Linked DNA regions of Homo sapiens. The protein of the gene in region 7 purifies or fractionates together with the protein of the main gene of each other region. This does not show direct contact. Each region holds a gene or a part of one and is shown on either strand. Other genes may lie near its edges. The genes, in order: PUM2, PUM1, REEP5, PTPRD, R3HDM1, HECW2 and LITAF.

Region 1 (3,500 bases), on a different chromosome or scaffold from region 7:
AAGGGGGAAAACAGCCTTAACTAAGAAACAAATGGAAATTTGAAAGAATTGAGTAGGGGCCTAGAAATCTGAACCAGACGATCAGTGACATACTACGTGAGAAAGGAAACATGGGGTTTAATCAATGCTCTCTTTTTTCTGAATTATTTAGGGCCTACAATTTATAATTTAAAAACTATTTCCACAAGTTTGTTTTTTATGTTACTTGTTCTTCCAGTTTTCCTCAGAATATTTAGGATTCTTTGGAGAAAATGTCCCAATTGTGTTAGAAACAAGGAATGAGTCCTATGGGAGTGCGTGAGGTGGACAAAGAGATACACAACTCCAAAAGCAATGAAAAAACTCAAGTACAAAATTGAAAAGATTTAACAATCCCCATGTTCACTGGATTTTCCCTCAGAAATTCTTATGAGCAGTCTTCAGATAATTTTGTGTCAGTCCAATATGACATCCACTTATTGTATTTCATTACAATAAATGAAAAAAGATTCTGCCATCTAAAAGTTTGTGGCTGTTCTAGACCATCCTTCCTGTATATATGAATGATAAAAGTTCAGAAGACACTCCCTTAGAAAACTGGCAAGCATTGTTAATAATGCCTGGCATGTGTTAGTTCTGCCATTTTCCACACCAGAAAAGAATATAATTTGATGTGGTAAGAAAAGAGATCAGAAACAGATATTAAGGACTGTAGCAAGTTATGTTATAGAAACAGAAAATCTCTTGAGGTCCAAATAGTCCTATCCTCATGAAGTAAAAGCTGCCAGCTGCACCGATAGAACTGGGTCAGCTGTTTTTTCCCTAATGTTTCCTGAGTACTGTGGAAACCTCACAGAAAACACCAAGTGTATCAACAAGAAGTCAACGTGGGCCTCTTCTGATTTCACTTAGTTCTTCCTCTACCACAGGATCCAGGAACCAGTTTGAGTGGGTCAATTATTTAGTGAAGCTATTTAAAATTTTGATTTGTTAAGTGTTATATAAAGCTAAGATACATGAATAGATACCCTTTTAAGTGAATTTTTAGTGACAAAGGCTAACTTATTTAATCTAAAAGATAACCATACTGGTAGCTTCTTAGGGGATTCTGTGTAGAACATTTCAGTATTTATACATACACATATGTATTTTTTATATTAGGCCAAATTTAAAAACTGTAATAAACTACCAGCATTTAATAAGAATAAACCATCTAATAAGGACACAAAGATAACTGCTTTAAAATACCAAAAATTTAAGACGGCAAAATATTTGCCTCCACAAACATTATGTAGTGAATGAAGATGAGCTAATAATTAGTGAATAATATATTGACCCAAATAAACCCTACTAAAACAAAAATTACAGTAATCAATTCCTAGAGCCAGGGAAAAAGGAAATGTATTATATATGAGTAAAGAACAGGCTGCCTATAGTGAGTTAAACATTGGTGAGTGTTGAAAAGATTTGCAGGATTTTTTTTTCCTACAAATTAAACCAGTAGTCCAATACTTTATTCCTGTCCTTCCTATCCTACATGCTATTATTGCTTATTTTAATGTTAAACACACTCATATACCTCTTCCACTTAGCAGAGTACACTCATCGTAAAAACAAACTTACCTGATGAACCAAATCCACTGAGGGCTGAGCCTATAGCAGCACCCAAAGAGTTACCACTTCCAAAGCCAAGAGATGTACTTCCAGGTTGACCAGGTCCATGAGAAAATAAAGAACTACTCTGGGAGCTATTAGTCAAAGAACTGCTTCCATAAAATGAATTAGATTGCAGATTAGTGCTTGGCTGCTGTTGCTGCTGCTGTGGTGGCTGAGTGCCAATTGGCCGAAACAGACCATTTGTGCTGCCTGTAAGGCTACTTGCAGTTCCTCCAGCTGCTGCTGCTGCTGCTGTAAAATAAATTTCAGATACTTCTTTAAACCACCCAGAAAATTCTGTATTTTAAAAATGGTATCTCAACACCAGAAAAATATTATCCTAAAAATGTCAGTTACACTTACCAGCTTGTGCTGCTGCTGAACTAATTAAAACAGGTGTTGGAGCCATTAACCGAACTGGAGCTCCAAGGCCAGTCCTTGCTCCAGGGCCAACCACTAAGGCACCAGTCTGATCATAATAGGCAGTTGGAGCTAGTACTTGATAGCCTAAATAAAATAAAGGTTTACTAATGAAAGCACTTATTACAAAAACATGCATATTTGTTTTTCCCTGCATTTGTATTTTTTCAACTAGACAACACAGCTATTTGTACCATTACTATAAAATCCTTAGTTAATATATGCAAAGCAACACATTTGACAAGGTCTTACTAAATATATGAAAAAGTAATAGACTGTCATTAAACATTTTTTCTCTAAATTTTACTCAGGGGCCACAAAATGAAGAGGTATTTTCCTTAATATAGAAACTACAGGCTATGAAGGAAGGGCTGATATTAGAAAAAAAAAATCACCATTTAGCCCTTCGAAGAAGAAGGATTAAAAAAACTGGGAGTAGCGAGGTAGAACACTGTACGAAATGTTTACTGTGCAATTTCATTGAAGTTCAAAATCAAGTGCCTCATTACCAGCATTCCGTTAGATTTTCATTTGTAATCATCTCTTTAAAAACTTAAGCCAAACATTCTATTTGTGAAGATTCTCAAGCTAGAGTTTAATTAAAAATCACACAGGCTTTAGTTTTATTGTAGCCTTAAGCACAAGGTAGGTAATCTTCACAAATAGTGGAGAATAAAGTTAACTTCTTAGCAGCCTTTCTCAATGGAGATTCTCTGTTGAACCAAAAACACAGAAAATGATTTAAGTAAGTATTTTGTTAATTCTCCTAAGGATGGTATATAACAAGCATCACTCTGGAATCACAGGAGAGAAGTTAGCTATATACACTGTGGATACTTCAGAGCAGTAATAAGGCTTTATTCTTTTCTGGAACTCAGTTTAGAAAGGCTGCCTTATAAAGCGACAAAAAACTGAGGCCCAATAACCTTACAACTATCAGCAAAACATGCATTGGCAACTTTTTTTTCCCTTAAAGAGTGCTGTCTTGCTCTGTTGTCTAGGCTGGAGCACAGTGGCATAATCATAGCTCACTGCTGCCTCAAACTCCTGGGCTTACATGATCCTCCCGCCTCAGCATCCTAAGTGGCTGGGACTACAGGTACATGCCACCAGGTCCGGATAATTTATTTTTATTTTCTACAGAAATAGGGCCTCACTATGTTGCCTAGCCTAGTCTTTAACTCCTGGGCCAGCGATCCTCCCGCCTCAGCCTCCCAACTGTGTCTGGTCCTTTAAGAAGTTTTTAAAAACACAGACTATACTGAAATACATTCCAACATCAATTTTTAAGTCTTATTTTGTTAATACTATGCAGAAGTGAGAGTTACAGTAAAATTAGTGATAATGCAGCATGAACATTTTATTGCCTTTAAACACAGTAGGCTAAATTCAGCTCAAATATAATAAACAGTGCTCAGATAAACACTTCACCTGTAAGACACACA
Region 2 (3,500 bases), on a different chromosome or scaffold from region 7:
ATGCAGAACATCAGGTAAAAAAAAGTTCACTATTTTAGCTTTGACATTCCTTTATAATCACTGTCCACTTAGGATATCTGCTTTCAATGAATGTCTTTAAAAACTTAAATTGCTGATTTCATTTGGTACAAACAGTTACTTGTTATAAAGGTTGATCATTGTAATACTGTTACTGGGTCATTTATCATTCTGGTGCTAAATAGTAAATAGCCAATTCATTCATTCATTCATTCATTTGAGACAGAGTCTTGCTCTGTCACCCAGGCTGGAGTGTAGTCGCCTGATCTCGGCTTGATCTCGGCTCACTGCAGCTGCTGCCTCCCAGGTTCAAGCAGTTCTCCTGCCTCAGCCTCCTGAGTAGCTGGGACTACAGGTGTGCACCACCACGCCTGGCTGATTATGTATTTTCAGTAGAAACAGGGTTTCACCATGTTGTCCAGGCTGGCCTCGAACTCCTGACCTCAAGTGATCTGCCCGCTTCGGCCTCCCAAAGTGCTGGGATTACAGTTGTGAGCCACCCACGCCCGGCCTATAGAATGCATTTTTTTTTTTTTTTAAGACGGAGTCTCACTCTTTTGCCCAGGCTGGAGTGCACTGGCGCGATCTCTGCTCACTGCAAGCTCCGCCTCCCAGGTTCATGCCATTCTCCTGCCTCAGCCTCCCGAGTAGCTGGGACTACAGGTGCCCGCACCATGCCTGGCTAATTTTTTGTATTTTTTTTGGTAGAGACGGGGTTTCACTGTGTTAGCCAGGATGGTCTCTATCTCCTGACCTCGTGATCCACCCATCTCGGCCTCCCAAAGTGCTGGGATTACAGGCGTGAGCCACTGCGCCCGGCCTACAACGCATTTTTAAGAACACTTTTTTTGGAACAAAGGATTCTTTTTTTTACTGTTGACATAAGAACTGCTAGGGTTGTTTATAGGATAGATACATATTTTTGAATCTTTTCTCTTGGGTGTGGGTGACTTGATTTTAAGATGTTGTAGTTGAAAGTAGGGGGAAGTTGATAACATCAGCTGCTCAAGTGAAATTTATTTGAAATGGGACTGATATATTGTGTCAGAGAGAAGTGGTTGTGGCTTTTAGGTTTTAACCACCTTTGTCCTCTTGTTATTGTTTAATTTTTAATTTTAACATGTTCAGTCTTATTAATCTAAAACCATAGTGGGAATCATAGCATATTTTACTGAGAAGAGAGGTTAGCCTTATCCATGTTTCCTGATTTCTTGATAATGACCAACCAAAAGATTAGACTGTTTTGATCAGGGTATTCTTTGAAATTGGGTATAGGTTGAATTTGGAAAGGTTCATTTTGTGTCACCCGTCAGTACTGATTAGCGAGAACTGACATTTTTCATTAGGCTTCTAGTGCTTCTGTTTTACTTCAGAAAAAATCAGGTACAAACATACCTGCAAGTCTGATTTTATTATACTTCCTCTGATCCCCCCAAAAGTGAACCATAGTTGTTTTTTTTTTTTTTTTTTTTTTTGAGATGGAGTCTCGCTCTGTCGCCCAGGCTGGAGTGCAGTGGCACAATCTCGGCTCACTGCAACCTCCCCCTCCCAGGTTTAAGCAATTCTCCTGCCTTACCTTCCCGAGTAGCTGGGATTACAGGCACCCACCTCCATACCTGGCTAATTTTTGTATTTTTAGCAGAGAGAGGGTTTCACCATGTTGGCCGGGCTGGTCTTGAACTCCTGACCTCATGTGATCCACCTGCCTCAGCCTCCCAAAGTGCTGGGATTACGGGTGTGAGCCACCATGCCCAGCCCTTTTTTTTTTTTCTTTTTCTTTTTTTTTTTTTTTTTGAGACAAGGTCTGGCTCTGTCATCCAGGCTGGAGTGTGGTGATATGATGATATTGGCTCACTGCAACCACGGTCTCCCTGGTTCAAGCGATCCTCCCACCTCAGTCTCCTGAGTAGCTGGGACTACAGGTTTGCAACACTACACCCGGCTACTTTTGTATTTTTTGTAGAGACGGGGTTTTGCCATGTTGGCCAGGCTCTACTTTGAGCCCAGGCTCACAGTGATCCACCTGCCTTGGACTCCCAGAGTGCTGGGATTGCAAGTGTGAGCTACTGCATCTGACCAGTTCTTTACTATAGTCGAAACAAAGACAGGCTGGGTGCAGTGGCTCATGCCTGTAATCCCAGCACTTTGGGAGGCCGAGGTGGGTGGATCACCTGAGGTAAGGAGTTTGAGACCAGCCTGACCAACATGGTGAAACCCTGTCTCTACTAAAAATGCAGAAATTAGCCAGGCGTGGTGGCGCATGCTTGTAATCCCAGCTACTTGGAAGGCTGAGGCAGGAGAGTCACTTGAACCTGGGACAGGGAGTTTGCAGTGAGCTGAGATCTTGCCATTGCACTCCAGCCTAGGCAATGGGTGAAACTCCATCTCAAAAAATAAAGTAAAAAATTAGCTGGGCGTGGGGGCACATGCCTGTGTTTCCAGCTGCTTGGGAGCCTGAGGTGGAAGGATTGCTTGAGCGTGGGTGGCAGAAGTTGCAGTGAACAGAGATCATGCCACTGCACTTCAGCCTGGGCAACAGAGTGGGACCCTGTCTCAAAAAAAAAAAAAAAAAAAAAAAAAAAAAAAAAAAGAAAAGAAAAGGAAGGTTTTCAGCTGTAAGGCTGAAAGAAGGCTCACCCCTGCAATCTCAACACTTTGGGAGGTCAAGGCAGGTGGATCACCTGAGGTCAGGAGTTCAAGACCAGCCTGGCCAACATGGTGAAACCCCGTCTCTACTAATAATACAAAAAAATTAGCCTGGCATGGTGGTGCACACCTGTAATCCCAGCTCCTCGGGAGGCTGAGGCAGGAGAATCGCTTGAACCCGGGAGGTGGAGGTTGCAGTGAGCAGAGATCACACCATTGCACTCCAGCCTGAGTGACAAGAGCGAAACTCTGTCTCCAAAAAAAGAAAAAAGAAAGATTTTCTCTTTCTTTGGGATGAAGATATGCACAGAATTTGGTGATTGAATTAGAAATCTTATATCCTGGAAAGATGAAGTAATGGAGGAAAAGTACAGAGTGCCTCTGGTTTGGGACACAGTGATTACATTTGATAGGACACCTGTTGAGTTTGAGGTAGAAGCAGAATATCTGGGTGTATACTGTAGGCAGCTCTACCTGTAGCAGGAAATCAAGGTAGGAGGTATTTGATTTGGGTGGCATCTGTGTAGTGGGGCAAAAACAAACCCTGTAATCTCTGTACTATTTGGCTAAATGTTATTCAAAAATCATAAACATTGGTTTTTTAAAATCTGTAATAAAGATCTATAAGATCTTTTGTTGTGTTTCCTAATGATAGACTGATGGGTGGAAGCTGAAAGGAGAGTCAAGGTGCCTGGCAGGTTCTTTGCTAGGTGAGCAAATCAAACTCTAGGTCAGTCCTTGGCAGAGCTCTAAGATCTGATTATTGCTGTGCAAGTTAAGAAGCGTTTATTGAAGGCTTACTCAGGCCTCTGTCTTACACTGAGCCCTATCATAAG
Region 3 (3,500 bases), on a different chromosome or scaffold from region 7:
AGGTCAGATTGAGAAATCTCCCAGAAGAAGTACAAATAAATAGATTTTTAAAAAAACCAACCCTGTCTCTACTAAAAATACAAAAATTAGCCAAGCATGGTGGTGGGCGCCTGTAATCCCTGCTACTCAGGAGGCTGAGGCAGGAGAATTGCTTGAACCTGGGGGGTGGAGGTTGCAGTGAGCCAAGATCATGCCACTGCACTCTAGCCTGGGCGACGGAGCAAGACTCCATCTCAAAAAAAGAAAAAAAAAAAAAAAGGCTAAGACCAAAGACAAAAAGAATTATATATCCATAATTAACCAGAACTAAAACTCAAGATACTACCATTTATGATGGTGGTTGGAGTGATGGAGCTTCCTATATTTAATTTCCTATATCTAAATTTCTTTAGATAAAATTGTTTAAAAGAGTAGCCAGGTGCAGTGGTGTGCGCCTATGGTCCCAGCTACTCGGGAGGCTGAGGCAAGTGGCTTGCTTGAGCATTTTTTTGTTTTTGTTTTTTTTGAGACAGAGTCTCGCTCTGTTGCCCAGGCCTGTCTTCTTGTTTATAATCTGAGACAGAGCCACAGATGCACAACATTCAAGCATTTATTCCTACTTCTTCTATACAGGTACTGAGATGGAGTTTTAGTGGTAGCAAGACCAACATACCTTCAGCATGTAGTAGAAGGGGAACCATGACAGGAAGATATCAGAGAAGAATTCAGCAATGCTGAACACACCATACACTACCCAGTAGGTCAGCCACTGGGTATCATCTTCTTTGTTGGGACTCTCTATAGCTTTAATTCTGAAAGGCAGTACAAAAGAAAGTATATCATTTGGTAAGATATCAATGAAAGATTTTCAAATACACTTTCATAACCTGTCCTCTGATACCACTGAGAAACTTAGGCACATGTAGGCACTGTGTCACTAGATGCAAGAGTACAGCTTAAAGACTGGAAGCAATGTGGATATCGGGACAAGCCATTATAACCACTTGTTTCTAGTCTCCTGGTCACCAGAGAAACCAGCACCAGCTGTTACTGCCCTGGATCTCCACCCTGCCAAAGCCTCCCCACAAGTCCTAGAATATACCACTAGTGACTGGGAGCTAGAGCAATTTCCACTCCCAAGCTGGGTCCTGCCACGAGGGATATATCAGGAAGAATTCTCTCGTGATAACCAGGTTCTTATGTACTTTTAATAATTGAGATATATCATGGGTGAATAAGAATTTCCCATAAAGCAACATTTGGAACATAGGTTAGGTACTGCCCAAAATCCACAGCATATTTTATAGTAAACGGGTGAAAACAAACCTCATGGTGTCTATTTAGTTCAGAATGTCTTTAACTGATCCACAGGCTATGGACTTTCCTCCTCTCCTCAGTTAATAACAGGACTTTCCCAACCCTAACTATTGCTTAAACAAAATTCATTCTGCAAATGGATGGAAATACATTTAAAATAATTTTCTAAATCACAGAAATTTCCTTCAGTCCTAGGAATCTCATTATTCTAAACCTGAAGCTCCACAATTTCTTATCCTAACAGATCTAGATATTTATCGTAACTGAGCTGGACTGAAACAGTAAAATAAAAGAACTCTGAATCTTGTTTAGCCTATGAAACAGGTTAACTACTGAAAATACATTGACAGGGAGCTAAGCTATGAGGATGCAAAGGCATAAGATACAATGGACTATGGGGACTTTGGGGAAAGGGCTGGGGGTAGTGAGGGATAAAAGACTACACATTGGGTACAGTGTACCCTGCTCAGTTGATGGGTGCACCGAAATCTCAGAAATTGCCACTAAAAACTTATCCATGTAACCAAACGCCACCTGTTACCCAAAAACCTATTGAAATAAAAAATTTTCAAAAAGCAAATACATTGGCTACTCCATAACATCAGCTCCCCAAAGAGACAGTCAGGCTGCTAAATCATGCTCAGTCACTCACTAAGAAAGCCCTTGTACAGTTAATTAGAAGCAGCTATGTGTGTGAGTTTTAGAAAATAACCAAAAGGGGAAAAATTGTAGCTCAATGAGATGATTACTAATGAGGAAGACAGAGAGAGGAACAAGTAATAAGGTGAATGTTGCTTTGAACTTCAAGACTAGGCAAAATTTTTATTTTTTTGAGACAGGGTCTCTGCACAGGCTGGAGTGCAGTTGCACAATAATAGCTCACTGCAACCTCAAACTTCTGGGCTTATGTAATTCCCTTCACTTCAGCCTCCCAAGTAGCTGGTACTACAGGTACACACCACCACACCTAGCTACTTGCTAAATTTTTAGTAGAGACAAGGTCTCACTGTGTTGCCCAGGCTGGTCTCGAACTCCTGGCCTCAAGCAATCCTCCTGCCTTGGCCTCCCAAAGTGCAGTCTGGTGGCTCCCACACCCAGCCCCAAATATTTCAAAGTACAAGAATCATATAAAATGAATTTAAGAGAGCTGATTATTAAAAAATGGCTTGTAATGTATGCACAAAGTCTGTATTTTTTTAGCTTCCTTCAGATAGAAGCTGGCGAATGTAATAGAAGGCCAAAGGAAAAGTGTAGACAAGCATGTTAACCAAAGAACACAGTATATCCTTTATGTGTAAGATTTCTTCTCCCGCTGTGTTTCATTTGGTATAGTATGGCTTATCCATATTTAATTGGATTTATTTAATTATTAGTATAATAAAAATTTGTTTCCTGTACATTCATTCTGGGCAGAGGAGATACGTAATTACATTTCACTCAAGGTCTTAGTTTTGTGAACGCAATAGCTCACAACTATGTACTTCCAAAAGAAGCAACTCTCAGGACACACCTGGGAATTAAACAGTCTTTTCTAGAATATGACGTAAAAACCTCAAAATGTGATGGGACTGTCATTGTTAATCCAGTGGCTTTTAAATTCTTTTGGCCACAACCCTCGGTAAGCATACATTTTACATCATGATCCAGTAAACAGACATCTTCACATAAAAATATAAACTTAAATAGATATTTCCTGAAACCATTCTGATATTTTAAATTCCATTCTATTTCATTATTTTTTAAATGTTAGTCAAGTTCCACAGATTGAAAAACAGGAAGCCTAACAGTTCAGCTCTTCTAGGAAAAAAAAATTCTTTTTTAATTCATATCTACAATATGAATTCTAAAGTCCCCATGTTAATATACTAGAACACTATATAGTAACATTGAAAAGTAGAAATAAAAGAACTCCAAATTGAATACATACACTGATCACAACTTTGCAGAAAACCAAGGCATATGAAAGAAGCCAGGAAAAGGCCAATGAGTCTATTAAGCTAAAGAGATTTTTTAATAGATCTTCTCATATTATTGAAGCATTTAATTGTTTTAATTTAAAATAGCACAATGTTCAATTTAAAAAATGTCTTTATGTGTCATAACAATCACAAACTACCCAAAACAAGAAAAAAGGGAAGAGATGGTCTAGCTCACTCAGGAACGTGAGGTTCAAAAAAGTGAAGTGCCCCATGTAGTCATGGTGA
Region 4 (3,500 bases), on a different chromosome or scaffold from region 7:
TTCAAAAATTGTGGCTTTTGGTCATGGATTATCAAGTACAACAAGGTGTTTAAGGAGCTGATATACCATAAAATCTGACGCCAAGAGGCTGTAGAGGTTAGAGTGGTAGGAACTGAATGAATTAATCTTCCCAGGAAAAGGGACCCGAGCTTGAAGGGCCACCCCAGGGAAAGGCAGAGAGCACAGCAGGTTCTCTTTCTGACAGATTGGAAATCCCAAAGGAAGAAAAAAATACACTCAGAAGCATTTGTGCCACGCTTAACTCTCAACTTTGGGAGGAGATACACTGGAGTTAGTTTTCCTTGATATGATTTGCCCTCTGCTTCTTTGTTCCCCTGGGCAGCACTTTTACAGTATCTGTCCTCCTGCATTCACATTTGTGATCATTTACTTATGATAACTTGTGCTCACTTCATTTGAAAGAATTTGTCTTATAAAAGCAGATCCACAATCTCACACTTTTTCTGCTTTTCATGTACAGAATCTAGATAACTGTAGCATTTACCTTCCGTACTAATATGCACATCTGGGAAAATACGTTATTAACTTTAGGCAACTTAACCTCTATGTGCTTTAGTTTTCTCATTTATAAATCAAAGATAATGATTGTACCAACTTCACAGGAATGATATGGGTATAAATAAGTTAATGCATGGAAAGCACTTAAAATAGTGACTGGCAGATATGAAGCAGTCAATAAGTGTTGGCTATTATTATTACCTTCTATCTGAAGATTTCTCAAGAACTCATGAGGCAGTATATAAGAGATAAAATTCAAGAAACCAAGAAGAATAAAAAGATCATAGTGACCTTGAAACCATCTCTGATTTAGAAACAAAAAAGTGTAATTACATACTTCTTTTAATCCCACTACAAGAAGTGATAAACTACATATGAGCTGCAGATTATTATATGGATGAGAAGGATGAATGAGTTGTAAGAGAAATGCACAATACAGACAATAGTATAATCTATTTAATAATGTTAATAACACACCCTTTAATTGTTCATAAGGCCAACATAGTCATTCCTGTGTGTCACCATAGCTCCCTATGAAGTTAAAAAACATAGGCAGAAGAGGGGAACTTGGCAATAGAAACAGAAATAGGAAGAGAACTGATGAGTAATGGAGGAAAGAAAAGCCTGCCATGGTGAGGACCATATATTCTGACCTATTCTGACCATATTCTGACCTAGCTTCTTCATCTCTGTATTCAGCAGCATTTGATTCACACCAAAGCATTCTTGAATATGGCCTGAAATTCCTTTCTCTTAAAATAGCTATCTATATCTGTATCTATAATACCATCAGAATATCTCTCAGAATGCACTGATGTAATACTTCAAAAAGCCAGTATGAATGTGTCTTAGTGAATGTGTAATTTGTTTTATTAAATCCTGGCATGTTTTCCAAGTGGGAGAGGTGTATGGGAAAATAGGAAGACTTCAAGCCCCTAAAAAAAATAAAAATAAAAAGGAAGGAATATCCTCCTGAGGGGCAGGAAAATGGGAGAATAAAGCACTAGACTTAATCCCTGAGACAATTATACTGCAAGAAAGCCTTGTTGCTTGCAACCACACAGGTATAAATGATGAGGCTAAGCTATTCTTTCAGAGCTAACCACATATGTTTCCTAGGAGAAAACAAATGGCTAGCACATATGACACACAATAAATACATCTATTCAGAGGAGTTGCCACTGGAATTCTTACACACTAAAATTATAAGCCATGGTCCATTGAAACAGGTACCATAGATAAGTGTTAATTGAGAACTAATTGAATGTATTATATAATAAAATAGGAAATTACAAATGGGAAATATTTTTTCTATACTTGTGATGCACATAATTTAGCTTTAAAATTTACAGGTATAAAAGTTTTTTGAAGGTGAAACAATATATCATCTTGGCACTGTTTTTCAAAAGTTCCTGCTGAGTAGTACTTTGATAAAGGTTTTCAGGGGGAATAAAAAAGGAAACTCTTCAAACTTAAGTCATAGATGTTTCCATGATTTTTTTTAAGAGAAATCAAGACGTGAACTTAGGGTAACTTATTAACTTCAGCAGTATCTAACAATCCCACTACATTTCTAAACATTTAAATTGCACTTTTGCCTTCCTCTTTGGTTATTTGATCCAAAGTACACATTATAAGTCCTCTTATAAGAATATCTCACCTCAAAAGGTACAGGAAGAATTTCCTCATTTTTCTCTGTCTATTCTCTTTCCTGAGAAAACCAAAGCACTTCTGCTATTATGCTTTGGTTATAGCTGAAAATAACATGAGTCTTGACTGTAACTGCTATTGTATTCTATGAATTTGGAAATATAAGGGACTGGTGCATAGACTGTAAACTGCTGCAGTGGTCTGGCGATTTATTTGTGTTTTTATATTGTGTCAATATTAGGATAGTACGGCGTATTTTTATCATGCTTTACTGCCTTTCTAGAACTTTGGAGAGTTGAACACACATAAGGAATTAGCACTGGAGTGAGAAGATGATGAAGGGTGCCAAGAAATTCCAGTGGAAAACAGCATAGACTGCAACTGCCTAATAAGCAACACAGCTTCCACCTAGGTTCTAAAAGCAATAGCTGTGACTCAGGATGACAGCAAAGGAGAAGGACAATAAGGTAAGTGTAGATACGTATCTGGAAATTTTTCTGTGATATAAAGGGAGAAATGCCTTAGGGAAGAGATTCCTTTTTCTCTATGGAATCAAAAATTTTATGATAACGTGGATACATTTTATAAGACCATAAGATGGTCACAATTGGGTAGTTTCAAATTGCTAGCACATGGCTGTTTTACTCAGCACTCCTTGACACATAGGAGACTCAATACATATTTGGGACTAGATAATATTATATGATTTATGCTGCCGTATTATGCATATTGCATAATCCTGACTAGTGATTCTGACTTGACAACATTTACAAGCTTGAAAATAGAAGAGGGTGCAACCTCTGCAAGTAGTTTGAAAATAGAAGAGGGTGCAACTTCTAAGAGTAGTGCATAATGTGAATATGGTACCTGAATTATTGTCCTATCCTTGATTTCTGTAGCAAAATCAAACAGGAATTACTATGGTTCATGAATAAACTGTCCTTCTCAATGGTTCCAGATGGTTATATTGTTATCAACAGCAAAAAAACGGAAAAGTGACAAGATAAAAGTGTGAGCCAGACTTCCCTAGAAATCTGATGACCACCTAACCCCAAGGTGAAAGATTTATCTTTCATCCTGATAACCATTTGGGTGAAGAATAAGAAATGAAATAATTCTGTCTCTAGCGTGAGATTAATGAGTCACTCCTTCTACCATTCTCTACCCCCTCCATCCTTTTCCACTGAGTAGAATTTCTAACTTTGATTATAAAGATTTGAGGCCAATTATTGGGAAAAAATCCCAAGGATGCTAGCTTATGTGAGTATTTTTCCTAAATTCTAAATACAGGTTTTTCGTAAGTGGCCTACACTGGTTCCACTTTAGAAACA
Region 5 (3,500 bases), on a different chromosome or scaffold from region 7:
ATCCATCTTTTAAATCATTCCTACTTACCCGATAGGCAAGGAATAGAGGGCTAATAGTGTTAAAGCTACTGAGCCGGGCGCACCTGTAATCCTAGTACTTTGGGAGGCTGAGGTGGGTGGATCACCTGAGGTCTGGAGTTCGAGACCAGCCTGACCAACATGGTGAAACCCCGTCTCTACTAAAAACACAAAAAATTAGCTGGGCGTGCTGGTGGGCGACTGTAATCCCAGCTACTCGGGAGGCTGAGGCAGGAGAACTGCTTGAACCTGGGAGGTGGAGGTTGCAGTGAGCTGAGACTACACCACTGCACTCCAGCATGGGCAACAAGAATGAAACTCCATCTCAAAAATAAATAAATAAATAAAAAAAATAAAATTAAGCTACTGATGTCATAGTCTTTACTGGTAGTTGCACAAATAAAAAGAGGCATTGTACAGTGGCTTCTCTAAATTAGGTGATCTCAAACATTTTTCTGAACTTCACATTTCCATTGTAAAATAAAATAAAAGCACTTGCCCTAACCACACCACAAGGCTGCTGAGTAGAAAGTTAAAATATAAACTTGAAGGTACTTTACCACAGAGAGGCAACATATTTGTTCACTCAGACTTTCTCCCACATGGATGTAAGGACAAACCCTTTCTCAAAGAACTAAGAGGCTAAGAGTTTCACTCTACTTGTTCCTCTCACACATTTCCCTGTGGCCCCTCTGTCCCTCCTAAACCTACCTGCATCTTACCATATATACTCTCACATCTCAAATGACACAAGGTCATAGGAACATATCCAAGAACCCTAAATCAGAGATGGCAAAAATTATGACTTTTTGCAGGATTCTAGGAAGAGGAAAACCCATTTCTGTGCTGTGGTGTATTTTTAGACTGTCACCAGTTTGCAGACCCACATCTAGTTGCCCCTCAGAGACATACCTGTTTCTCCTGCTCCAAGGTCTGTGGATGCAGCTTTTTTAGCTTGTCTCCTTCCTCGGTTTCCATGCCTGCTGCCAGGCTGACCCTGAAAACCCACAAATAGTTGAGAAACAACGTTAATAATGCTGAAAAACACACTTTGGATGTTTAACAAATTAACACCAAAACACCTTTAGTTTGGGTTTTGCACTCTGGCAGAAGAAAATCAGTCCCAGGCCTTCTGGATTCTGCCTGTGGCAGTGGCATTCCTGTCCTTCATTATGACCGATCACTTGCTGACGGTCCTTCATTAGCAAGAGTGCCCCAATCCCTAGCCACTGCCTTGTCTTTGGGTGGCACTAGAGAATTACTGCTCTGCCAAGCAGCACACCATCTTCTCCTTTGCTCTGCTCCTGATGGAGCCAGTGATAATCTGTGTAAACCAACTGGCTGAGGCACAGAGCTCTTCTTGGGCAGTGCCAACAGGTGGGCTCAGGGTTGCCCCTTACACTCTGAGGGAGCTATGATGTTCTGCAACAAAGCCTAGGAGGTTAGTTGTCTTTCCTACCTGTTGGTTTGGAATGTGTCCGTGCAGAACAGCAGGAGGATTGTACTGCAGTGGCTGGCCAAGTAATGGATACCTGGAATCTCCTGAAAGTCAATAAAATATTTTATTTTATTGCCAGAGGCCGGGCACGGTGGTTCATGCCTGTAATCCTAGCAATTTGGGAGGCTGAGGCAGGCGGATTACTTAAGGCCAGGAGTTCGAGACCAGCCTGGCCAACATGGTGAAACCCCATCTCTAATAAAAATATAAAAATTAGCCAGGCCTGGTGGTGGGCGCCTGTAATTCTAGCTACTCAGGAGGCTGAGGCATGAGAACTGCTTGAACTTGGGAGGTAGAGGTTGCAGTGAGCTGAGATGGCGCCACTATATTCCAGACTGGGTGACGGAGTGAGAGACTGTCTCAAAAAAATAAAAAATAAAATAAAACAAAAAGTACTTGCCAGAGTTTTCTAATTGTTCAAAATAAGATGAACAGGGGAAACAAGTATGGTGGCATAAAAAAAGTATAGATAACTGACATTTTTCTTTTGGAGACAGGGTACTGCTCTGTTGACAACCCAGGCTGGAGTGCAGTGGTGCAATCATAGCTCACTGCAGCCTTGAACTCCTGGGTTCAAGTGATCTTCCTGCCTCAGCCTCACAAGTAGCTGGGACTACAAGCACAAACTACCATGCCTGGCTAATTTTATTTTAGTAGAGATAGAGTCTCACTATGTTGACCAGGCTGGTCTCAAACTCCTGGCCTCCAGCAATCCTTCCACCTCATGAGTTGCTGGGATTACAGGTACAAGCCACCATGCTTGGCTAAATGACATTTTAAACAAGAATTAAAAATTTCCACATATCCTTTTAAGAGCCCAGGCAAAATTCTGAAAAGATTAAGGACTAATAACAGTGGTTAGGAAGGAGGGTGCATGGTAGGAACTACATGAATAGAGACAGGATGGAGAGAAACTTCTCTGGATACTTTGAAGATATGGAAGAGGAAGAATCTAAGAAAACTATGACACTAAATCCTAACATCCCGTATGAAATACACCAAAATAACTACAATACACATGCCAATCATTTGAGGTGCTGAAATCCATATCACTCTATTATGATTAAAATCTTACCTTTCAGAGGAAGGAAGAAACTCTGGATAAACATTAAGTTTTTATCTCCCCAATTCACTATTAATTGCTAAAAATTTATGCATATAATATATGCATGTACACATTTACATATACTCAAACACACTTTAATAGTTTTAACCAATGGGTAGTTGTACATCCTAGGTCTTAAGTCTGCTCTTCTTAATCTTTAAGTGAAATTTGCATTTATAATTTGAACCTGTTCAGAAAAAGTTGTGTAGTTCTTAAGTGTCATTATTCGTAAGTATTCCCTTCCTAAATCAGTAAATGTGGGTTAATGAGGATGGAGATCTTCCAATTGCTTTCTATCACTCAGGAAAGCCTGAAGTCATCACACGGCAAAGGCTTAATAAATGCTGACTGCAAAAACTTTGTCTTGGATAATAAGGTTTTTGTGTTACATTTTCATTTATTTTAAGTTCTCAAATTTAGTACATTTTGTGTTTGGAGGAGGGTTATCAGTAGGTGCTAGGAAAGCATCCTCAGGAAACTGTACACCCCTTCTCCTGAGAGCTTCATAACAGAAAGCAGCAAGGTGTGGACTTCTTGCCATTCCACAAGGCTCCTTCCGGGTGAACACAGTGAAGATGCCTGGGCAGCTCCCTGGCAGGACATATGCATGACATACTCTTTCCCAACCTATAGATGGAAGGGCAGATATGACATGGGGGTTTAGCACTGAGATCAGAGATGCAAAGTGAAGTGTGAAGGTGTATAAAAAATAGTTGTGAAGGCCGGGCGCGGTGGCTCACGCCTGTAATTCCAGCACTTTGGGAGGCCGAGACGGGCGGATCATGAGGTCAGAGTTCGAGATCAGCCTGGCCAACATGGTGAAACCCCGTCTCTCCTAAAAACACAAAAAATTAGCCAGGCGTATGGCACATGCCTGTA
Region 6 (3,500 bases), on a different chromosome or scaffold from region 7:
TGTTGTATTTTGGGAACTGTGTCTTATTCCATTCAAGTGTTCTGACTATGAATTACAACTGATAAGGAGCGTAGTGAACAGTGGAAAAACTGTGCTGATTGGGAAGCTCAAAGGGTGTGCTTTTCTAAGTTTTAGAAACAAAATGGAATAGGTGGAGTTTGACCAGCTGGATGTTAGCTCCTTGGTGCTTCACTGACAACACGATAAAGTAATTAATTAGTGTTCTTACGGTCACATTTCCTCACCAACAATTAAGAGTTATGACATCCTTTGACGGTGTGTAAACAGTCCTTCTCCCATCTGACAGATGAGGTAATTAGGAAAAGAAGAGAATGTACCTTGCCCAAGGTCTCAAGGGAGCCTGCATCAGACCTATGATTAGAGTCCAAGTGCTGTTGCCTGTCCTATATTCAGTTGGCAAGCTGAACCATGCCTTCCTTTAATTTGAAATTTAAAATCTAGCCATCTATAAATCAAATTTCACCTCCTCTATATTCTGTGTTGTTTCTCCAATCACTTAGGTCTATTTCAGCTGTGCCTGCGATGACCAATTCCAGTTCTCTTGCATCAAAAACAGATACCAGCCTGGCATCCACCACCTGTGGAATAAAAAGAGTACAAGGCATGGCTTAGGAGCCTGGAGAAATATCAGCTATAATTAAGCCTTAGAAAAGGGGACACATGGAGTTTCAGGAATAATATGTGTGTACCTTGTGTTGGCACTTGAAAACCTGTAAAGCTCCCTACAAATATAAGGCATTCTTTAGTATAAGGTTGATGAGATTTGCCTTGACAGAATTTTTGTTTTATAATTGATTGCTGATTAATCTAGGTCCCGTCCACCTTTAGGAAACTATCTAGTGTTTCTACAGAAAAAGTCACATACAATACATGCCAACTCATTCTGATCTCAGATATAATTATTTCACATAGCAAGCATGAGATTTGATTACCCATATCTAAGCATAAGATGCATGGCTTAAATGTTACTAGTGGTCATTAAATCAACAAATGCTACTTGAATGCAGTCCATAACATTTATTTCAGTGATCTCTCGTAACAGTGAGTTAAGCTTCTTTTGGTGCTCTTGAAACATAAGGGAAAAAATACTGAACTTTTCGCATGGAAAGAGCAACAGTAAATACAGCAGAAATAGTCTACACATGTAAAGTACAATAAGATGGACTGTGGCATCATTGATATCAGACTGCAAACTCCTCCTACTGCTGATTGTCTTTACCTCATAGAAGCCACGCACTAAGCTCTCTGTTTGCTGTACAACACCCCTCTCAATCCTCCACTTCACCATCCTCTCGATGTACTCCTTCTTGTTCTTCTCTGTAACTGGGATATTGGCACCCCCTGGCTTTAATTCTCGTTCAGTTATCTGAGATTACAAAATAAAAAGAATGACTACAAAGCAATACTCTTAATGTTATAACAACATTACTAGCATTGAGCTGAAATCAGCCAGCTACCTGTCCCAGCCCTGCCCTAGGCACATCCCACAAGCTGGCAGTGAGGCCCCAGGCACTCACGGAGCACACACACTCAGGAAAAAATAGGCATTGAGGGGGTGCTTGAAAGCTTTGGTGATTAAAGTATATATATGTATTGCTGTTACTACAGGTTAAGTTTTAAAATGCCGATGAATCGGCTTCAGATACTAGCCTGCTACTATTTGAATGTTTGACAAAACCCATTTTCACAAATTTCTCAGAATTGACTATATCTAGCGTAAAGATTTACTTTAAAGCAGAATTACACTCAAGTGAATGTTAAATTGAGAACTTTTTCAAAACACATGGAATGCAGAAAAGCAGCTAAAGATTAATGCCTAAATAAGAATATTAATTATAAACTGGTATATAATTTCTGGAAGAAACGTTTTCCCTACTCTTCCACCAATTTTGAAAAAAAAATTAATATATTCTGTTCTTAAGTCTTCCCCAAAACATTGTTTATGTTCCCTTAGCTTCAAAAAAATCAATTTTGGTTCTCTTTATTTTTCTTTTCTTTTTTGAGACAGGGTCTCACTCTCGTCCCCCAGGCTAGAGTGCAGTGGCATGATCCAGGCTCACTGCAGCCTCAACCTCTCCAGCTCAGGTGACCCTCCCACCTTGGCCTCCTGAGTAGCTGGGACTACAGGTATGTGCCACCACACCTGGCTAATTTTTGTATTTTTTGTAGAGATAGGGTTTCACCATGTTGCCTAGGCTGGTCCTGAACTTCTAGGCTCAACTGATCCTCCTGCCTTGGCCTCCCAAAGTGCTGGGATTACAGGCATGAGCCACCGTGCCCAGCCACCATTCTATAAATGCCAATTAAAAAATTCTGTAGTGTGGACTTTAAAAAACTGCATTCTATATAAGGTAAATTCTCATATTTTGGGGGATATTTTAGTTGGAAATAAAAAGAAGATTGCTTACAACATAAACAGTTATCACCATCTGTAATTTACAGCATCTTAATCTGCAGCTGACATTAATTCTAATCTTTATAACTGCGGTTATTATAACTGTGTGTGATCCTGAGTTTAAATCACCCAATAAACCACGAATAAATAAGCATCTGATCTTAGCCATGGAGTTAATTCTTCACTCATCAATAGCCTTCAGTTACCACACTTAGGCGCCAGGTGTGCAGATACACACACCTGCCCAAATACTTCTTCGTTCACAGTGAACGTGAGGTCTAGGATGTCATGGATATCATTGTCTTTCATCCACTGCAGGCTCTGATGGAACTCTTCATCAAGGTATTCTAGGTCACTCAGGTCACATAGACTAAGATGACAAACAGACAGAAACAAATATGTAGGCATGGCTATTAGCAAAAACCCAGAGTCATAAGGAAAGAAACTAAGAATTAAAGAGAAGAATAAGAGCCACTACATAGGCAGTGATTTCTGGAATGTTCTTAGTCCAAGTCCAGTAATTAAACCAAACCAGTGAAATAATTCAGAAATTTGTTATAAAATTAGAAAGTCCTAAATATATAATATGCCACAGGAATCATTCAGCCTGCGTCTTCCTTTATAGACACAGAACTGGAGGTGCAAAGAATGAGTGCCATCTGCGCAGTCATCCATCATCAATGCCAGATCAGGAACTGGCACTCGGGTTGACAACTTGGATCCATTATTCTTTCTGGCCATATTATACTACCTTAAAATACTGTTATCTTAATTTGAAATTATTTATATATTTCTATATTTTAACTTTTTTTAATTGAAAGACATGATTTTTATTTTAATATTTATTTTATTTTATTTTTTATTAAAGACATGATTCATCTTCACATACATTCCCTTTTTCTTCATGGTTCTTATTCTGAAAATAGTAAGCCACAGAACCTGCCGTCAATCTGTATTTTTCCCCCACTTTTTTTAATTGTAGAGAAAGAATCGACATGAGGTAAGTTACTGTTCCATGGCCCAGTTGTACAGTGGTAGTCATTGATTTGCTATAGCTGTTTTGAAATTTCACTCCCCTTAACCC
Region 7 (3,500 bases):
GCTAATTTTTGTATTTTTAGTAGAGACGGGGTTTCACCATGTTGGCCAGGCTGTTCTTGAACTCCTGACCTCATGATCCACCCACCTTGGCCTCCCAAAGTGCTGGTATTACAGGCGTGAGCCACCGTGCCTGGCTGGAAGATCTTAACTTAGGAGAGGAGACTGAAGGTCGACACCTGGTCACAAGCCATCACCTGCTCTTCTGAGGCTACTCTGAGACAACTTTCATCATTCAAGAGGCTTTTTATCTGCATTAACAAGGCAACCTTTGTTCACCATACATTTCCTCCCCTTACCCTTCTATAACCTATCACCACCTGCCTCCAGGAGCCCCAGGCCCCTATTCCTTTTTCTTTTTTATTTTGAGACAGGGTCTTGTCTGTCACTCAGGCGGGAGTGCGGTGGCACTATCTCGGCTCACTGCAGCCTCGACCTCCCAGGCTCAAGCGATCCTCTTGCCTCAGCCTCCAGAGTGGCTGGGATCACAGGCATGAGCCACCATGCCAGACTAATTTTTGTATTTTCTGTAGAGACAGGGCTTTGCCATGTTGCCCAGGCTGGTCTTGATCTCCTGGGCTCAAGCGATCCTCCTGCCTTGTCCTCCCAGAGTGCTGGGATTACAGGCATGAGCCACCACGCCCAGCCGCTTATTCCTTTTTCGTAGCTCAGGCACACTACATAAACTTCAATTATCTGACCTTGCTTTGAGTTTCACTTTCTGTGGGACTCCCACATTTATGCATGGAATAAATTTGTATGTATTTTCATCCGTTAATCTATCATCAGTTTATTTCATAGGCTCAATTATGGTACCTTCAGAAGGCAGAAAGAAAGTCTTCTCTCTCCCCTACATAGGCCAAGAGTAAGAAAAACTATAAGGTGAAATGGAATAGGCAGGTCTTACCCCAAAGCACTCAAGTTCAATTTAAAAAAACAAAATTTGAGTGCTTTGGGGTGAGGCTCATGCCTGTAATGGCAATACTTTGAGAGGCCAAGATGGATGGATCACTTCACTCCAAGAGTTTGAGACCAGCCTGGGTAACATGGCGAAACCCTGTCTCTACAACAAAAAACCACTAAAATTAGTGTGGTGGCTGAGGTGGAAGGATGGCTTGAGCTCGAGAGGGAGGTTGAGGCTGCATGGAGCTGTGATCACGCCACTGTACTCCAGCCTGGCCAACAGAACAAGGCCCTATCTCAAAAAATATATAAGTAAATAAAGTATATTTTGGTTAAATGCCAAAGACTAAGTGGGGGGTAAAGGAGAGTTTCTGACACTTCTAACTGATGAGGTGAAAAATAAAAAATAAAATAAAATAAAAAGATACCTAGAATTTCAGCAAAAGAACAGGTTTTAAAGGAATCTCCCAAACTCTGCCCAGCTGAATGCATATTTACACCTGACCACAAGTCCGCACTCCCCTCGAAAGGTATTTCACAGCTTCCACAAAGGAAGGACGACAAAATTGAGCTCACAGAAGTAGAGAAAAGAACTGTGGTTACTGGAGGTTACAAAGGGGAGGGGAAGAGAGGCTAGAGAGAGGTTGGTTGATAGGTACAAAGTTACAGTTCAATGGGAGGAATAAGTTCTACTGTTCTGTAGAACTGTAGGGTGAATATGGTTAACAATTATTCAGTGTATATTTTCAAATAGCTAGAAGAGAGAATTCTGAATGCTCACAACACAAAGAAATGATAAGTGTTTGAGGTGATGAACATGCCAATTACTCTTTGATCAATTACACACTGGAGACATATAAGAAAATATCACTCTTTATCCCATAAATGTGTATGATTATTATGTGTCAACTAAAAATAAAAGAGAAAATGGTCAATGGCTTTTTAAAGGGTTTGAAAACAAGAGCAAGATATAGTGAAATATCTATTTCACTCACAACGGAAAAAAAAAAAAAAAAAAAGAACTCCCCACAAAGCTTTAGCCACATGTGGGTGGTAAACTCTTCTAAAAATATATCCTCAAGCTGTGTATAGAACTGTTTTCTACATTTGGGTATCAGATCAACACATAAAAGGGCAAGGCCTTCAGAAAGATAAAGCGGCTTTTTAACTACCAACTTAATCCTCGAAGATCGATTCTTCCAGGAAGAAAAAGGAGAAATATTCAATTCTACTCTGGTCTCCATCTCCCAGCCCCCAGAAAAGAAACACTAAGCTAGGCCCATGAATATGTATATCGCAGAAATGACCCCAGAATAAAAAAAGGGATTCCTTAGGCAAAAGAAGGGCACTCACATGCAAATTGTCAGGTCCCCTAAGAAAATAGCCTAGTTTGTAAACAAGAAAGAGAACCAGCTGCGAGGGTCAAAAAGGTCTGGTCTTTTAGGGTCTCTGGAGAAAAACGTTATTTCCAATAATGGGAGCACAGTGGATCCTGACTATAATCAACTTTCAGGAACTATCCAAATTGTACACTTATTAAATTGAATATTGCTTAAAATTCTTAAACTAAGGAGGGTCACCTGGCAGGTTTTAAGCTACAATAATTCTGCAATACGGTTTTTGTTGTCATGGAATTTAACCTGTCTATCATTCCTGAAAATGTTCAAGGTGAATGGTGCGTCTTAAGCCATAAATGGTTAAGCAGGAAGGTAGACAAAAGGGGAAACCCGGACCTCCAGCTCTTTGGGAAAGGAAGCGAGAAATTGGCCTTTGGTTATTTGATCCCAAACAAATTCCAGTTTCAGTAGACCTCAGTAAAAGTACAGAAGCTCAGAGTGAAATATTTCAGAGAAATGTGTGCCAATTCCATCTTCTGAGTTCAGGCTGTTTCTGCAGGGCGGTATGTCCCACAAGTCAAAGATAAAGTTACCACAATCTTAAAGCCAGGTTCAAGCATGGCGTAATGACAAATCACAGTGATTTGTGGAATGGAAAATGCTTCCATCGGGGAGTTGGGCTGCTCCCCCACAATCAGAGTGGGCAGTTTTCCTCTGGACTCCTGGTGAAACCACATCCCTAGTTTCCACGTGAATCACAGTTTTTCATCAAACAGTGCAAGGAGATCATTAATAAGACTGAGACTGCATTAGGATACAAAATTGTATGAACGCTGATGACAATTTCATAGAAAACAGGCACAAAGACAAAAGACAGAAGCCGCCCGATAAGGACAGCCAGTGGTAGTTGTTTCGTTCTATAAGATTATGCCTTTCTTCTTTATCTTCCACACTTTAATATTTTTTAATAAAAAATTTCAAACTATCAGTGCATCATCTAGGAATAACCTCATGGATTCAAGTTTAAGGCAAGACATCATTAAGCTCTTAAACTTACCTGAGGCACACTGTCAATTAAATCTAAGGCTCCATGAGCTAAATAGCTTAAATTCTCCAACATTATTTTCTCTGAAGCCTCCAGCTTTGGATCCTGGTATATAAACTCCTACCTACTGCGAGGTGAGCAGAGAATTACCATCACATAGACACCCTCCAGAATGGTTCCTTTCTTGTGTCCATGCCTTAAGCTCTATGAAATTACAC

The links.
Region 1: the proteins of LITAF (region 7) and PUM2 purify together in Homo sapiens (affinity purification with mass spectrometry; 2 studies listed by BioGRID and IntAct, with this or other methods). This does not show direct contact.
Region 2: the proteins of LITAF (region 7) and PUM1 purify together in Homo sapiens (affinity purification with mass spectrometry; 2 studies listed by BioGRID and IntAct, with this or other methods). This does not show direct contact.
Region 3: the proteins of LITAF (region 7) and REEP5 purify together in Homo sapiens (affinity purification with mass spectrometry; 2 studies listed by BioGRID and IntAct, with this or other methods). This does not show direct contact.
Region 4: the proteins of LITAF (region 7) and PTPRD purify together in Homo sapiens (affinity purification with mass spectrometry; 2 studies listed by BioGRID and IntAct, with this or other methods). This does not show direct contact.
Region 5: the proteins of LITAF (region 7) and R3HDM1 purify together in Homo sapiens (affinity purification with mass spectrometry; 2 studies listed by BioGRID and IntAct, with this or other methods). This does not show direct contact.
Region 6: the proteins of LITAF (region 7) and HECW2 purify together in Homo sapiens (affinity purification with mass spectrometry; 2 studies listed by BioGRID and IntAct, with this or other methods). This does not show direct contact.

Annotation. Positions count from the first base shown.
Region 1 is NC_000002.12:20,281,345-20,284,844, forward strand, and holds part of PUM2 (pumilio homolog 2), read right to left. Parts: intron 2,143-3,500; coding exon 1,999-2,142; intron 1,888-1,998; coding exon 1,603-1,887; intron 1-1,602. UniProt on the Homo sapiens protein: Sequence-specific RNA-binding protein that acts as a post-transcriptional repressor by binding the 3'-UTR of mRNA targets.
Region 2 is NC_000001.11:31,055,718-31,059,217, reverse strand, and holds part of PUM1 (pumilio homolog 1), read left to right. Parts: coding exon 1-14; intron 15-3,500. UniProt on the Homo sapiens protein: Sequence-specific RNA-binding protein that acts as a post-transcriptional repressor by binding the 3'-UTR of mRNA targets.
Region 3 is NC_000005.10:112,901,728-112,905,227, forward strand, and holds part of REEP5 (receptor expression-enhancing protein 5), read right to left. Parts: intron 792-3,500; coding exon 653-791; intron 1-652. UniProt on the Homo sapiens protein: Plays an essential role in heart function and development by regulating the organization and function of the sarcoplasmic reticulum in cardiomyocytes.
Region 4 is NC_000009.12:10,603,003-10,606,502, forward strand, and holds part of PTPRD (receptor-type tyrosine-protein phosphatase delta isoform 1 precursor), read right to left. Parts: intron 1-3,500.
Region 5 is NC_000002.12:135,719,984-135,723,483, reverse strand, and holds part of R3HDM1 (R3H domain-containing protein 1), read right to left. Parts: intron 1,561-3,500; coding exon 1,478-1,560; intron 1,016-1,477; coding exon 931-1,015; intron 1-930.
Region 6 is NC_000002.12:196,219,555-196,223,054, forward strand, and holds part of HECW2 (E3 ubiquitin-protein ligase HECW2), read right to left. Parts: intron 2,787-3,500; coding exon 2,657-2,786; intron 1,388-2,656; coding exon 1,241-1,387; intron 600-1,240; coding exon 485-599; intron 1-484. UniProt on the Homo sapiens protein: E3 ubiquitin-protein ligase that mediates ubiquitination of TP73. Acts to stabilize TP73 and enhance activation of transcription by TP73. Involved in the regulation of mitotic metaphase/anaphase transition.
Region 7 is NC_000016.10:11,580,420-11,583,919, forward strand, and holds part of LITAF (lipopolysaccharide-induced tumor necrosis factor-alpha factor), read right to left. Parts: intron 1-3,500.